4 linked regions of the Homo sapiens genome follow. The protein of the gene in region 2 purifies or fractionates together with the protein of the main gene of each other region. This does not show direct contact. Each region holds a gene or a part of one and is shown on either strand. Other genes may lie near its edges.

Region 1 (3,572 bases), on a different chromosome or scaffold from region 2:
TATAGATCAATGGAACAGAACAGAGCCCTCAGAAATAATGCCGCTTATCTACAACTATCTGATCTTTGACAAACCTGAGAAAAACAAGCAATGAGGAAAGGATTCCCTATTTAATAAATGGTGCTGGGAAAACTGGCTAGCCATATGTAGAAAGCTGAAACTGGATCCCTTCCTTACACCTTATACAAAAATCAATTCAAGATGGATTAAAGACTTAAATGTTAGACCTAAAACCATAAAAACCCTAGAAGAAAACCTAGGCATTACCATTCAGGACACAGGCATGGGCAAGGACTTCATGTCTAAAACACCAAAAGCAATGGCAACAAAAGCCAAAATTGACAAATGGGATCTAATTAAACTAAAGAGCTTCTGCACAGCAAAACAAACTACCATCAGAGTGAACAGGCAACCTACAAAACGGGAGAAAATTTTCACAACCTACTTATCTGACAAAGGGCTAATATCCAGAATCTACAATGAACTCAAACAAATTTACAAGAAAAAAGCAAACAACCCCATCAAAAAGTGGGCAAAGGACATGAACAGACACTTCTCAAAAGAAGACATTTATGCAGCCAAAAAACACATGAAAAAATGCTCACCATCACTGGCCATCAGAGAAATGCAAATCAAAACCACAATGAGATACCATCTCACACCAGTTAGAATGGCAATCATTAAAAAGTCAGGAAACAACAGGTGCTGGAGAGGATGTGGAGAAATAGGAACACTTTTACACTGTTGGTGGGACTGTAAACTAGTTCAACCATTGTGGAAGTCAGTGTGGCGATTCCTCAGGGATCTAGAACTACAAATACCATTTGACCCAGCCATCCCATTACGGGGTATATACCCAAAGGACTATAAATCATGCGGCTATAAAGACACATGCACACGTATGTTTATTGCGGCATTATTCACAATAGCAAAGACTTGGAACCAACCCAAATGTCCAACAATGATAGACTGGATTAAGAAAATGTGGCACATATACACCATGGAATACTATGCAGCCATAAAAAATGATGAGTTCATGTCCTTTGTAGGGACATGGATGAAACTGGAAATCATCATTCTCAGTAAACTATCGCAAGAACAAAAAACCCAACACCGCATATTCTCACTGATAGGTGGGAATTGAACAAGGAGAACACATGGACACAGGAAGGGGAACATCACACTCTGGGGACTGTTGTTGGGTGGGGGGAGGGGGGAGGGATAGCATTGGGAGATATACCTAATGCTAGATGATGAGTTAGTGGGTGCAGCGCACCAGCATGGCACATGTATACATATGTAACTAACCTGCACATTGTGTACATGTACCCTAAAACTTAAAGTATAATAATAATAAAAATAAATAAATAAATAAATAAATAAAACCCACTTACTATTTCTGCAATACTTTGTTTTACTTAAAGGCCAGTAGTATCAAAATAAAAATCAACTTTTATAGTTTTATCACTTACACATCATAGTTGCTATAGGAGTGGCTATAAAATGAATATCCATTGCTAAAATTGGATCTTTCGTTATTGCATAAAAGGAGACATTTCTATTAGTCACAACTACGATATGGTAAAGGCACAGTATGTCTCAGTTACACACAGGCTGAGCCATTCAAAGTATCTGTGAAATTCAATGGAGCATGTAGAACCGTTCCAGCAACCACTTAAAACCTGGCAACTCAAAGTACAGTTTCTGAACCAGTAGCAACACCTGGGAGCTTGACAGAAATGAGAACACATGGACACATGGAGGGGAACATCACACACCGGGGCCTGTCAGGGGGTGGAGGGTAAGGGGAGGGAGAGCATTAGGACACATACCTAATGCATGTGGGGCTTGAAACCTAGATGACAGGTTGATAGGTGCAGCAAACCACCATGGCACATGTATACCTATGTAACAAACCTGCATGTTCACCACATGTATCCCAGAACTTAAAGTAAAATCAAACAAACAAACAAGAGTCAAAAAAAGAAAAAAAGAAGCACGATCTTAGGCCCTGCTGAAGACCTACTGCATATGAAGCTGTAGTTTAACAGGCTCCCGCTATGATTCGTAAGTACATTAAAGATTGAGAAGCAAGACTTAAGACACTAAACTGATCTCAGGAAACAAAAGATTTTTAGAAAGTTTAACTCAAAAAAACAAAACAGTATAAATGAGAGTAAAACTATTACATTACATACTAAACAACTGTAATTGAAGAACTGCTGTACCGTACCTTAAGACCTGAACTCCAAAGATCAAGCACATTTTCCATCTTCTGAAGGTTTTCATCAGAAACAAGAAAATCGCTCACAAGTATTTCATGGGCATCTGTATGACTAGAATTTGTTGCTGGTGAGGAAGAGTCAGCTAAAAGATGTGAACTGAAAAAATCCATGACTGGGTGAGAAGGCTTCCTTGGCGATAACACTGGTGATGACTCTGAATAAAAGAAAAGTTGTAGCTGTCAAGCCAAATTGAAAATAACTCAAGTTGGTAAGGAACCATACTGGAAGGCTAAAAGACGTCTGCTACTTATGGAGGCTGAGAAAAAATGCAGAGAAACTACCTTTCAGGTGTACCTTAATCTATTTTTAATTTCAGTATTGTCAGTGATTTAGCACAGACTGGCATGAGATACCTCCTATACTCCCAATCCCTTCTCTCCCAGCAAATGACCTCTATCCCAGATAAGGATCCTTCATATATCCAGGTCCAGCCTGAGGTGAAACTATCATCATCTGTATCATATCACCATTAATGAAGTGCTTTCTGTTTCTGTAATAAAAACATTATAAAGATTAGTTCTCATAACACATGCTACCCTAAAAAATAGGTATTATTATCTCCATTTTACTGATGAGAAACTGAGGTTCAGAAAAAGTTAAGTAATTGACCAAGGTCAGTGTGGTTGTATATAGGTCAATATTACTCTGTAAGTTTAACACTGGGATTGGTTTTAATACTATTAAAATTCGGCCGGGCGCGGTGGCTCATGCCTGTAATCCTAGCACTTTGGGAGGCCGAGGCGGGTGAATCATGAGGTCCAGAGATTGAGACCATCCTGGCCAACAAGGTGAAACCCCATCTCTACTAAAAATACAAAAATTAGCTGGGTGTGGTGGCACGCACCTATAGTCCCAGCTACTCGGGAAGCTGAGGCAGGAGAATTGCTTGAACCAGGGAGGCAGAGGTTGCAGTGAGCCGAGATCGTGCCACTGCACTCCAGCCTGTGACAGAATGAGACTCTGTCTCCAAAAACAAAAACAAACAAAAAACCTATTAAAATTAAACAATTTAAGTAGAAAGAGACTCATAATTTAGTTTTGCAGATACTCTGTTGTTAAGTACACTGTTAGGCTTCAATGTAGAGGTGAGAAATGTACACATCTCTATATGTATGTGCATATATATAAAACGCTCATCCCCTGCCCATATCCAGGGAGGTGGGGGAGAGTCAGGGCCCTAAAGAGAACAGGTATCTATTTCTAAAAAAGCACTGAAAGGCTGGGCACGGTGGCTCATGCCTGTAATCCCCGCACTTTGGGAGGCTGAAGTGGGCGAATCATGAGGTC
Region 2 (3,572 bases):
ATAATGCAACTGAAGAAATAATTAAAAGATGGGTAGTTTTGATGACTTAAAATAACTTCTGCTTATCAAAACTTATACTGTAAAGGTTACTGAGGGATGGCTGTCAGGGGAAATGGGGATGGTTAATGGGCATAAAAATAGAATGAATAAGATCCAGTATTTGATGGCACAATAGAGTGACTGTAGTCAATAATAATTTAATTTTACATTTTAAGATAACTGAAAGAGTACAACTGGATTGTTTGTAACGAAGGATAAATACTTGAGGAGATGGATACCCAATTTCTCCTGATGTGATTATTACACATTGTATGCCTGTGTCAAAATATCTCACATACCCCATGAATATATACCTTTACATACCAACAAAAATTAAAAATTAAAAAACAAAAATGCTTAACATAAACAGAATTCAAAGGAAACGGACAACCGGAAAAGAAAATACAATAAAGGCTAGCTAGAAAATATTTGAAACATAGAAATAGTTAATAAAACCCATTGAGAAACCAACATCCCCTTGGAAAAATAAGCAAAAGATAAGAACAGACAATTCACAGAATTATATAAATGGAAAAAATACATACGAAAAAACATTCAATGCCGTAACTGAATAAATGCGACTTAAAACAATGGCACACCTTTGTTCACCTATTAAGCTGTGGACGATAATCCACTAACTTTTGCCAGCTGTGGGGAAAGCCACTCCTTCAGCTGCGGGGAGAAGTATCCATTGGGGGTCTATCCAGAGGGCAACCCAACCACACCAGTCAAATCTTAAAAATGTCTATGTATACTTTGACCTTGTAATTAGAATTATACAATCACTTGAAATACTGAGATCTTTAGAGAGGTGGTTTATTATGTACAGGAGTGTTCTTCACAATGCTATTTATATTACAAAACTTGTGAAACAGTTAAATTTTGACACGTGCACAACATTCCATGTCACTGCCAACAAAAAAAATCATGTACAACAATTTAGGAACATGGTAACATGGCCTTGACTTAGTGTTTGGTTTTTCAAGAATAGTAGTTATCCCTGGTAGTATTATAGATGTACTGCTATTTTCTCTTCTGTATTTTCCATATTTTCTACAGTAAGTTTTATCTTTATAATGATATAATATACATATATAAATATTTATATTTTAAAAAGGAGTGTGAGCTTTATAGAGAATTTATTAAAAAACAACAGCGTCCCCTCCCCACCACCCCTTTCACCCCCCACAGAACTAGGTGTGCCTGGTACCAAGCAGATGGTAGATTCTCTTTAGGCCCCCTTCTCCCCAAGTAACTAATGTCTCCCTGCTGCCCCCAGAAACCCCACAGCATGCAGCGGGGCCTGCCTCGCCCAGAGTTCCTAGCTTAGCCAGGGCAAATGCCCCCAAATTGCCTCCCTTTCTCCACTTTGGACCAAGCTCTCGCTGCCTCAGTTAGGGGTTTGACAAGGAAGCAATCCAAGAAAGCAACCAGCTGCAGAAAAAAGGTGTTTGCATGGTTTTTTAAAGGGATGTTGCTAATCCAAACCTAGAGTCCATGAAGGTCCTAAGGCCTATTTTCAGGTTTTATCTATCTGTCTATATATTTTGAGAAGGAGTCTCGCTCTGTCGCCAGGCTGGAGTACAGTGGCATGATCTCAGCTCACTGCAACCTCTGCCTCCCGCGTTCAAGCGATTCTCCTGTCTCAGCCTCCCAAGTAGCTGGGACTACAGGCATGCGCCACCACACCCAGCTAATTTTTGTATTTTAAGTAGAGACGGAGTTTCATCACGTTGGCCAGGATGGTCTCGATCTCTTGACCTCATGATCCGCTCGCCTTGGCCTCCCAAAGTGCTGGGATTACAGGTGTGAGCCACTAGAAATGTGTAGCACCTCCCCCCATTCTCTCTTGCTCCTGCTCCTGCCATATAAGACGTGCCTGCTCCCTGTTTGCCTTCCGCCATGACTGTGTTTCCCGAGGCCTCCCCAGAAGCCAAGCAGAAGCCACTAGGTTTCCTGTACAGCCCACAAAACCATGAGCCACATAAACTTTTCTTTAAAAATAACCCAGTCTCTGGTATTTCTTCATAGCAATGTGAGAGCTGCCTAATACTTCTATGTATCAAGTTTTTTTCTTTTTTTTTGAGACGGAGTCTCGCTCTGTCGCCCAGGCTGGAGTGCAGTGGCGCGATCTCGGCTCACTGCAAGCTCCGCCTCCCGGGTTCACGCCATTCTCCTGCCTCAGCCTCCTGAGTAGCTGGGACTACAGGCGCCCGCCACCACACCTGGCTAATTTTTTGTATTTTTAGTAGAGACAGGGTTTCACCGTGGTCTCGATCTCCTGACCTCGTGATCCGCCCACGTCGGCCTCCCAAAGTGCTGGGATTACAAGCATGAGTCACCGCGCCCGGCCGATATGTATCAAGTTTTAAGGACACATGGTCCCTGCCCTAAATGAACTTACAGTATTCAACAGATAAGTATGCAAGTAATTACCTAACTTCAAGTTATGGTAAATGTTAGGAAGGAAACTTACAGTGTTAGGAGAACATGTATCATGAAGTTCTACTTAAAGTTGCAATTCTACCCCCTGAAGGAGGCCCTTTCTTTCTTAAAACCAAGAGCACATCAAAATGCTTCTTCCAAACTTCTAATGCAGTCACATTTTGAGGGAGTCAGAGCTGGATAGTGTACAGGGCAGTGGTTTTTTTTTTTCTTCCACTTATTTCAAATAGGAACGCAGGAATGCAAAACTATTCGGAAAATGATGTCATCCTTCTGGAAACTGATACTGCTGCGACTAGTCTCCTTTCCTTTTAATGCTGGGAGGAGAGAAATATTTACGAAGATTTTCATGCAAACAAGCTTTATGTGTGAGTAGAAATTTTGAAAGAAAGTAAATGTCCATCATTAGGGGACTGCTTAGATGAATTGTAAGTATATTCTAAGCTATGGAATACTGTTCTATTATAAAACAGTGAGGTGACACCTATGTACTGGCACGGAAAGCTCTCCAAACATACTAAGTGAGAAAAAGCAAGCCACTATGGTATGACTCGATTTGTTTTAAAAAATAAAATAAGGTGTACACGTTATGCTAATGCAGACAAAGTACAGCAATAAGGCTGCACAAAGTGTCCACCTACCTTCAGCACATAGTGAAAGAGATTTATGAATCCTTTACCATGATGATGTATTTAGCTACTACTTGTACAAGAAAAATATTAACAAAGTAAAACATGTATCCAACAGTAGACTCTCTGGACAGCATGCATCCTTCTGGAGGGGTTAGGAGTCTCTCTTGGCTCTTTGGTTTAGTGTGAGTTGAAGATGTTCTATTATAGGACCTATGCCATGAGACCCTAAATATTGGCCCACTCTGATAGACAACCCTGAAAAGAATCGATCTGCTTTGCCAGCTGGTACATGCTAAAAAGCAGCCTGAAGATATTCCCAAAGACAGGTCTAAATTCAGCCACAACAGAGCAGATAACTTAAGCCACCCAGCCGCTGACTCAGTTGCAGGAAATGAAAGGGGAACTCCAAGCAAACTATATTGGAAGCAGCTGCAGTTATATCTATCCTTTGACTCA
Region 3 (3,572 bases), on a different chromosome or scaffold from region 2:
CTAGTGAAATAAGCAGGTCAAATAAAGGTGATCTAAAGCTCTACCACAAATACTCAAGGTATTTTCCATCTCCAGGATCCTAGTAGGCTATGGGAATTGGCAGCCCCAAAAATAAGGGGAAAAAAGCACTGAATATTTAGATGGAGGAGCAAATAAAGGTGCAATAATCCACAAGAAATAAAGCAAATTTATGAGCATTTTGAACAAAACCCAGTAAACTGAAATTAAATCAGCAATTTATCTAGCTAATCAGAAAACAAAATATTTGGCACTGTTACATGGCAGGCATTTACCTGGGTACAGGGAGAAATATATATATATATATATATTTATATATATATATATATATATAAATATATATATATATATTTTTATATATATATATATATATTTGTTCTGTTTCACTGCTATATATATATAGCATATATACCAACATGGAGTTATATGCTACAGAATTTAGCTGTGGTCTCAGTTGCCTGAATTTTAATATCTTCCCTATTATATGCTTTAAGGGACACTGCCCCAAACTAGCTTTCCCACTTCCTTTACTACTGATACTTAGGACTACTGTTTGATCCTCAGCCTGTCCATTCGGGGTTTTGAATTCTAATTCACTGTATAAGGCTAGTCCTTAATGCTTCTGAGATTGTGGCTCTGATACCACATTTGTTCTGTTTCACTGCTATATATATATATTATATATATATAATTTATATCTATATATATAAATTATATATTATTTATATATAAATATATATTTATATAATATATTACATATATTATATATATAAATAACTTAATTTTTGGTGGTAGGAACACAGATGTTTGTTATATGTTTGCAACTTGTCAAAATAGAAACAAAACAAAACAAAAAAGCAACAGAGGGAAGAGTATTTCAGGCCCAGGAGAAAGTAATTTCCAAGGCCTTAGGACAGGAAAGTTCTCATTATGTTTTAGGAACTGTCAGATGGCCAGCATATAACATGTGGGGCACATTGTGAGCCTGGAGAGGTAGGACGGAAAGGGCTTAAAGTGAATTTGGGTAAGTACAGAGGGGGCACTTCAAGTAGGGCCTTGTCGGTCACAGTGATGACTTTTCATTGTGTTCCAAGTATAATGGGGCCAAAAAACTTAACATTCTGATGATATCTTTATTACCTATTATTTATTAATTTTGTGTGCTGTTTGACTTTTTTGGCATGCAAAATGACTTTAAAGTACTCTCTTATAGGTTCATTCATGTCCACGGTTTCCATATTCCTTTTCCTATGTGATCTTAAAATCCTCAACAATGAATTCCTCTACCACAAGGAGAATTAGGTCAAATCTTCACATTTGGATAAGAATATTGTATTATTCTTATCTCTGCTTGTCATTGTTCATTTTTTCTATGTTTGCTGTGTTGATTAGTGTATGTGTTTTGGCAATTGAGGACTGGTCTCTGATATTCTGATTGGAGAAATAAGTGAATTTGGAGAATGGACCACCTGGGAGGCCAGACTGAGTGAAGGACCTGGGAAGGGCATGTGGTGTGACAGAGGGCACCTGGGGCTGCGGAGTTAAGGATGCAGGGGAATCAATGCCATAACTGCTTTAATAGCAGAAGAAGATTGTCCTTGCCACCCTGTGCTTCTCCTCTTCCTTTCTTGTTTTCCTCTTTCATGAGATGGAAAATACTGTGTCCCTACAATGAGAAAGATGCCTTGAGATGCAGGAGTCCCTTCCTTCTGTGCTCCATTATCTTACCTTAGAGAGCCTGAAGTGGTTTGCTAAGTGCTAGCTTCTCTGTCTGGAGGAAAGAGCTCCTGACAGAAGAGGGACCCAACCTCTTCTGCTGCTTTCTGGACTTAGATCATTTGCCTGGTTTCTCGGGCCGGGACTCATAGCACACTGACAAATGGGAATATGTGCAAAGGGTCTGGAAGCCATCCCAGTTTGTCAACGTTCCCCTTGAAACCCATGGAGTATAATTCTTCAGAGACATTAAGGAATTATTTTTATATGAATCATAAAAACCTTTTACAATTTTCTATATGATAACATATATCTCTTTCTTGCTATCCATCTTTCTATCTTCCTGTCTCTGGGCAATTTGCCTTTAAGAGGTTAAAACCTTGTACAAGATCATTCTAGAACCCTAGTCCCACATGGACGGCTTACCAACATGGAGTTATATGTTACAGAATTTAGCTGTGGTCTCAGTTGTCTGAATTTTAATATCTTCCCTATTATATGCTTTAAGGGATACTGCCCCAAACTAGCTTTTCCCCTTCCCTTACTACTCATATTTAGGACTGCTGTTTGATCCTCAGCCTTTCCATTTGGGGTTTTGAATTCTAATTCACTGTATAAGGCTAGTCCTTAGCGCTTCTGAGATTGTGACTCTGATACTTCAAGACTTCCATCACAGGAAGTTTTCCTGGTGCTACTTTACAAAGAGAGGCATAAGGAGTGGGTTTTTCTTGTGTGTTGGTTAGCCATGACAAGAGCAAGATGCTATCCTATGGATGCTGGAAAGTAGAGATACCTTTTTCTAAGAAATCTGGCAGTGAACAGGAAGCAAGAGATCAGAATGTGGGTTAAAGCACTGGCAGGAAGGTGGGGTTTGTGTTTGTCTACACACAGAGGTGAGAGTTTGGGCAGCCACGTGGACTGAGGAGAAGTTGTCAGTGGTGAAGGACAGAGTAAGATGAGGATTCACAATTAGCACTTTTCCAAAAAATACCCAGCTTTCAAGTCAGTCTGCCTTTAATAATGATGAAGTAGAGCATTCCCAGTCATTTTGCTCATGGCTTTGCTTCACAGGGGCCCTTCCTTTACACCCCAGTTCTCCCAAAAAGTGCCATGGGGAATTCTTGGCTTTTTGTGGACATTACAGAAGTGGAAACTACCTGGAGGCTTGTAAGTGGTACCCCATAGGCAGTTTTGTTATGCCTATCCTGTCTTCTTCCTGCTGTTGGGGCTCGGAATAAGATACCCCAAAGTACGGCACATTGGTGTGCTGAGTACTTTGAACTAGACATGGGAACATAGGAAAGGCCGCTGGCTGCCTGACAAAAAAAAAAAAAAAAAAAAAAACTGTGTGTGCATGCTTTTCAGCTGGCTGTAGGATATCAGCCAGAAACAAGGTCTTTCTGACCCTCTCGCATTTTCCCCTGAAGCAAGTCATGGAAAACAGAATTCCTTTCCCCAAGGTGGGTCTCAGAAACCAGAACCACTCCGCCCCAAAGCAAATCATAAAACCTAAAAAGGTCACTCTCTCCCTTTTCCCTTGAAAACCTTATTTCATGGGAGTCCTGCCCTCTGCCCAGGAGGAAGAAATGCCACACAGTGAGGCCCAAAAAATCTGGACAGGCCTTGCTGGGTTTCTGTTTCAGTTTATTACTATTGACTCATACCCTTTTGTTCAATCACATTTCTACACGCCCATCCTTTCTTCATCAAACCTAAGCATAAAATCAGACATTTTTCCCTGAGTCTTTAGATCTTCATTTTGAAAGCCTCCCATGTCACATCAAACTTTGATTAACTAAATTTGTTATGCTTTTCTCTTGTCACTCTGTCTCCTGTGA
Region 4 (3,572 bases), on a different chromosome or scaffold from region 2:
AAAAGAACGTCTCCAGCCAGCAGCCAGCTGGGACCTGAGGCTTGTCAACAGCCACGTGAGCGAGCTTGGAAGCGTTACCTTTCCCCAGTTGAGCCTTGAGATGTCTGCAGTCTCGGCTGAAACTTTGCAGCCTGTGAGTGACAGACCTGAGCCAGAGGACCTAGCTAAGCCATACCCAGATTCCCAACCCATGGAACTATGATCATAGAGATAATAAAAATCTGTTGCTTTAAGCCATTAGGTTTTGGGGTAATTTATTATTTAGCAATAATGAATACACACATTTAATCCTCATAAATAGCCCTATGACATAGTACTGTTATGTGAGCCCCAACAAATGAGGAAACTGAGGTTTAGAGATGTGAAAGCAGTTAATGAATGGCAGAGCTGGGATATGAACCTGGCTTTCTGGACTCGAGAGCTTGGGCTTGAGCCCCATGCTGTGTTACCCCCTAGTAGTATAACACAAGGTGCAGTTTGACATCACAGGTGACAATGAATCACAATAGCATATTCTGTTTTGAGAAACTTCCCTGAAAGGAGGCTGAGGTAGACAGGGCATGTATTATTGTCCCCATTGTAACGATGACAGACCATGCAGCTCATACAGCCAAGAGAATGGGGTATTAACCCAGGCCTTCTGACCCCAGGTCCGTAGAGTTGGGCCTGTGCTTCACTGCCACGCTGGCACTGTGGCACTCACTGTACATTCAGCAAGCCCTGAGGAAGCTGGCGGGAGCTTAGCTGACATGCACAGGGTAGGTCAGTTTGTTCTCTGGAGAGCATTCCATGAGATGCAAATATCTTCACACAGGCCTGGGTTAATACCCCATCCTCTTGGCTGTGTGTAGACCCTCTCACCCTTAGATTCAGACTCATTTTACTAAACAGGCAAAACATAGCTACAAATTTCATGTATTTTAATATAACAGGACTATGTGGTAATAGTAACAATACTATGTAATCATTAACTGTTAATTAAATGCATGCTAATGGTACATAAGTCTGAGAAAGGGTACTCAGTACACTTAATGCAATGTGAGAGATTATCTCAAAGCCAATGGGACCCGGCTGGACATCTTTTGTGCTGGAGAAATTACTCCATCTGCATCACAAGAGCATTGCCTCTGTCACCAAGCTGAAAGTAATCAAGTCTTGTGAGCTTTGAGACTTTTGCTTCCTCTAAAGTCATTTTTCATCCCTTCTTGGTAAGATGCTTCATTTATATGTAAGTCACCAAACCCTGGGGTCAGTACAGTCTGGTTCTCCAATGCCTCGGACATAAAGTAAAACCTTGATGGTCTTAGAAACAGGCTTACTGTATTGCAGAGAGGGTGAGGAGATTACATTGTTTTACCAGTTTACAATCTATGAAATAAAATATGCTTGCCAATATGAATGCATCTTGTAAATGATGTATTTGCTAATTATAAATTAAGTTACATATTTAATCCTTGATTTTTTAGAGCATTGTGTAAGGAATTGAATTAGGTTCAGAAGGAAAGAATGGTAAGAAAGTTAAAATGGCTCAAATGAAAGCATAATAAAAGAGGAAATCATGCTTCTTTCTTTGAATGTTAAATTATGATGAACTATATGGTAGGATAGTGTTTATGGATGACTGTATATCAAATTCTTGTGTTAGGTAACAAATACTTCCTTGACTAGGGCAGAGTTCAACATTAAAATTAGGACTATGTAATAAAGTTTAAAATGTAAGGTACTTAAGTAAGTATACAATTCTTGTTTACTTACAGGAAAGAATTAATTACAATGACAAACTACACTGTCAGAAATCATATAAGGATAAATATTACTGAATTCAGAGGGATGAGTTTGGAATGTGGAATCCTTTTCTGTAGGTTCTTCTTCCTCCATCTTCCTCAGATGAGGTGGGCTTTCCTTTCCCATTTTTCTTGGATGCTAACAGCATCTTTTATACCTCTCAGGCATGTTTTCTGCCCAACAGTGTACAAGCGTAATATAAATCCCTATGATTATATTGTCGCTAACCAGGCAAGCTATTGTAGCTAGCCACCTTACTGGGTTCTCTTATTCTTTCTAATGGCATTTTTATGTATCCCCTTGAATTTTCCTAGTAGCTAATTATTTAATCTGTCATTAATAATAAAACTTTTCCCTGACCAATATTTATAACACTTCCCTCCTTCCCTCCTTCCCTTCCTTCCTTCCTTCCTTCCTTTCTTCTTTCCTTCCTTCATTCCTTCCTTCCTTGCTCCCTTCCTCCCTCCCTAATGGGGTCATTAGGAGGATCTGAGAGTTTTAGAACTGCTAGCTGCTGCTGCTGGTAGCTATTTCTCAAAATATTTTCTTCTTGCTATAAAATGCTTTCCTTCTCATACCAGATTTCATAAAGACCTTCCATCTGGTCTGCACTGATAACTAGAATCCAGAGATGCTCATTCCTCTTACAACTTGTAGTTTAAAATGATCCAGATGCAGAAGGATTAGGTTTCATAGCTTCTTCTAAAGGATTTTGTCTTCCTAATCCTACAACTGCATGTGTTGAGAATTGATCAGCATGAGAGAGTGCTAACAATAAACCTATTAAAGTGTCCAGTTTTTCATTTGACGTGTTTTAGGGGAATACAACAATGGGATCAAAACACTGACATCTATTCAGGTAAGGACTGCAGTAAACCAGATAATCCACAGTGCATGAGACAAAATAAGAGAACTAAAAATGAAAGACAAAATTATAGTCAATCTGTATTAGAAAGAGGGTTCTCAAGAATTTTATCAATTTGTTGTGATCCGGGAATATGCCAATTGATTGAGTGATCTCTATAAATTCTGGTTCTCAGTTTCTTAATCCACAAAATGTGGGAACGAATAAAAAGTAGCTGGGATTTTGATGAAAGTCCTTTCATCACCAGGAAGATGAACTTTGGTAAGTTGACTGACCTAAGCCCCAAATTTTAGGGGCCACAATACTGGTTCTAGAAAATGATTCAGGGAGGAGAAAACAAGAGAGAAGTAAGTCACTCTAAAGTGCTGCTGCCCCATTTCTCTTCCCTGTTCATCTGTCCCCTCGTCACTTGTGACGGCACACTCATCTTCAATGTTTCCCTGGGGTTTATGTTCATATAATTTCACATGTAATAAAAATCTGGTAGGTGCAGAAGAAAGGAGCATAAAGCATGAGATGCTAAACTCACCTCTGCCTTGAGATGGCCTTGATAATTTACGGCATAAAAAGTAAGTTCCTATTTGGTAGAAATTCAGCTTTTGATCAGTCTCAAGCTTATTTTTTTGTGTAAATAAGCTTGTAGAAATAGAGGGAATGCTTTCCCACATTAGAGCGTTAGATTTGATCTTTCACTTTTAAAGGGTAGTGCAGAAATAGAATTCCAGGGTGGGCAATCAAAACAAACATGAAAAAAATGATCTGTGTGTAAAAGTGAGATGTAGGGAATTAGACTTGAGTAATGAGAAGATGACACAAAAGTTCAGGGCCTGAGGCTTTCTGCAAAGAGACCTACTTTCTTTTTCTTTCTTTTCTTTTCTTTTTTTGAGACAAGGCCTTGCTCTGTCACCTAGGCTGTAGTGCC

What was found.
Region 1: the proteins of PANX1 (region 2) and POC5 purify together in Homo sapiens (co-immunoprecipitation; one large-scale study listed by IntAct). This does not show direct contact.
Region 3: the proteins of PANX1 (region 2) and SLC2A12 purify together in Homo sapiens (co-immunoprecipitation; one large-scale study listed by IntAct). This does not show direct contact.
Region 4: the proteins of PANX1 (region 2) and HTR1E purify together in Homo sapiens (co-immunoprecipitation; one large-scale study listed by IntAct). This does not show direct contact.

The regions. Positions count from the first base shown.
Region 1 is NC_000005.10:75,700,372-75,703,943, forward strand, and holds part of POC5 (centrosomal protein POC5), read right to left. Parts: intron 2,440-3,572; coding exon 2,234-2,439; intron 1-2,233. UniProt on the Homo sapiens protein: Essential for the assembly of the distal half of centrioles, required for centriole elongation. Acts as a negative regulator of centriole elongation.
Region 2 is NC_000011.10:94,135,319-94,138,890, reverse strand, and holds part of PANX1 (pannexin-1), read right to left. Parts: intron 1-3,572. UniProt on the Homo sapiens protein: Ion channel involved in a variety of physiological functions such as blood pressure regulation, apoptotic cell clearance and oogenesis.
Region 3 is NC_000006.12:134,032,097-134,035,668, forward strand, and holds part of SLC2A12 (solute carrier family 2, facilitated glucose transporter member 12), read right to left. Parts: intron 1-3,572. UniProt on the Homo sapiens protein: Insulin-independent facilitative glucose transporter.
Region 4 is NC_000006.12:86,940,498-86,944,069, reverse strand, and holds part of HTR1E (5-hydroxytryptamine receptor 1E), read right to left. Parts: intron 1-3,572. UniProt on the Homo sapiens protein: G-protein coupled receptor for 5-hydroxytryptamine (serotonin). Also functions as a receptor for various alkaloids and psychoactive substances.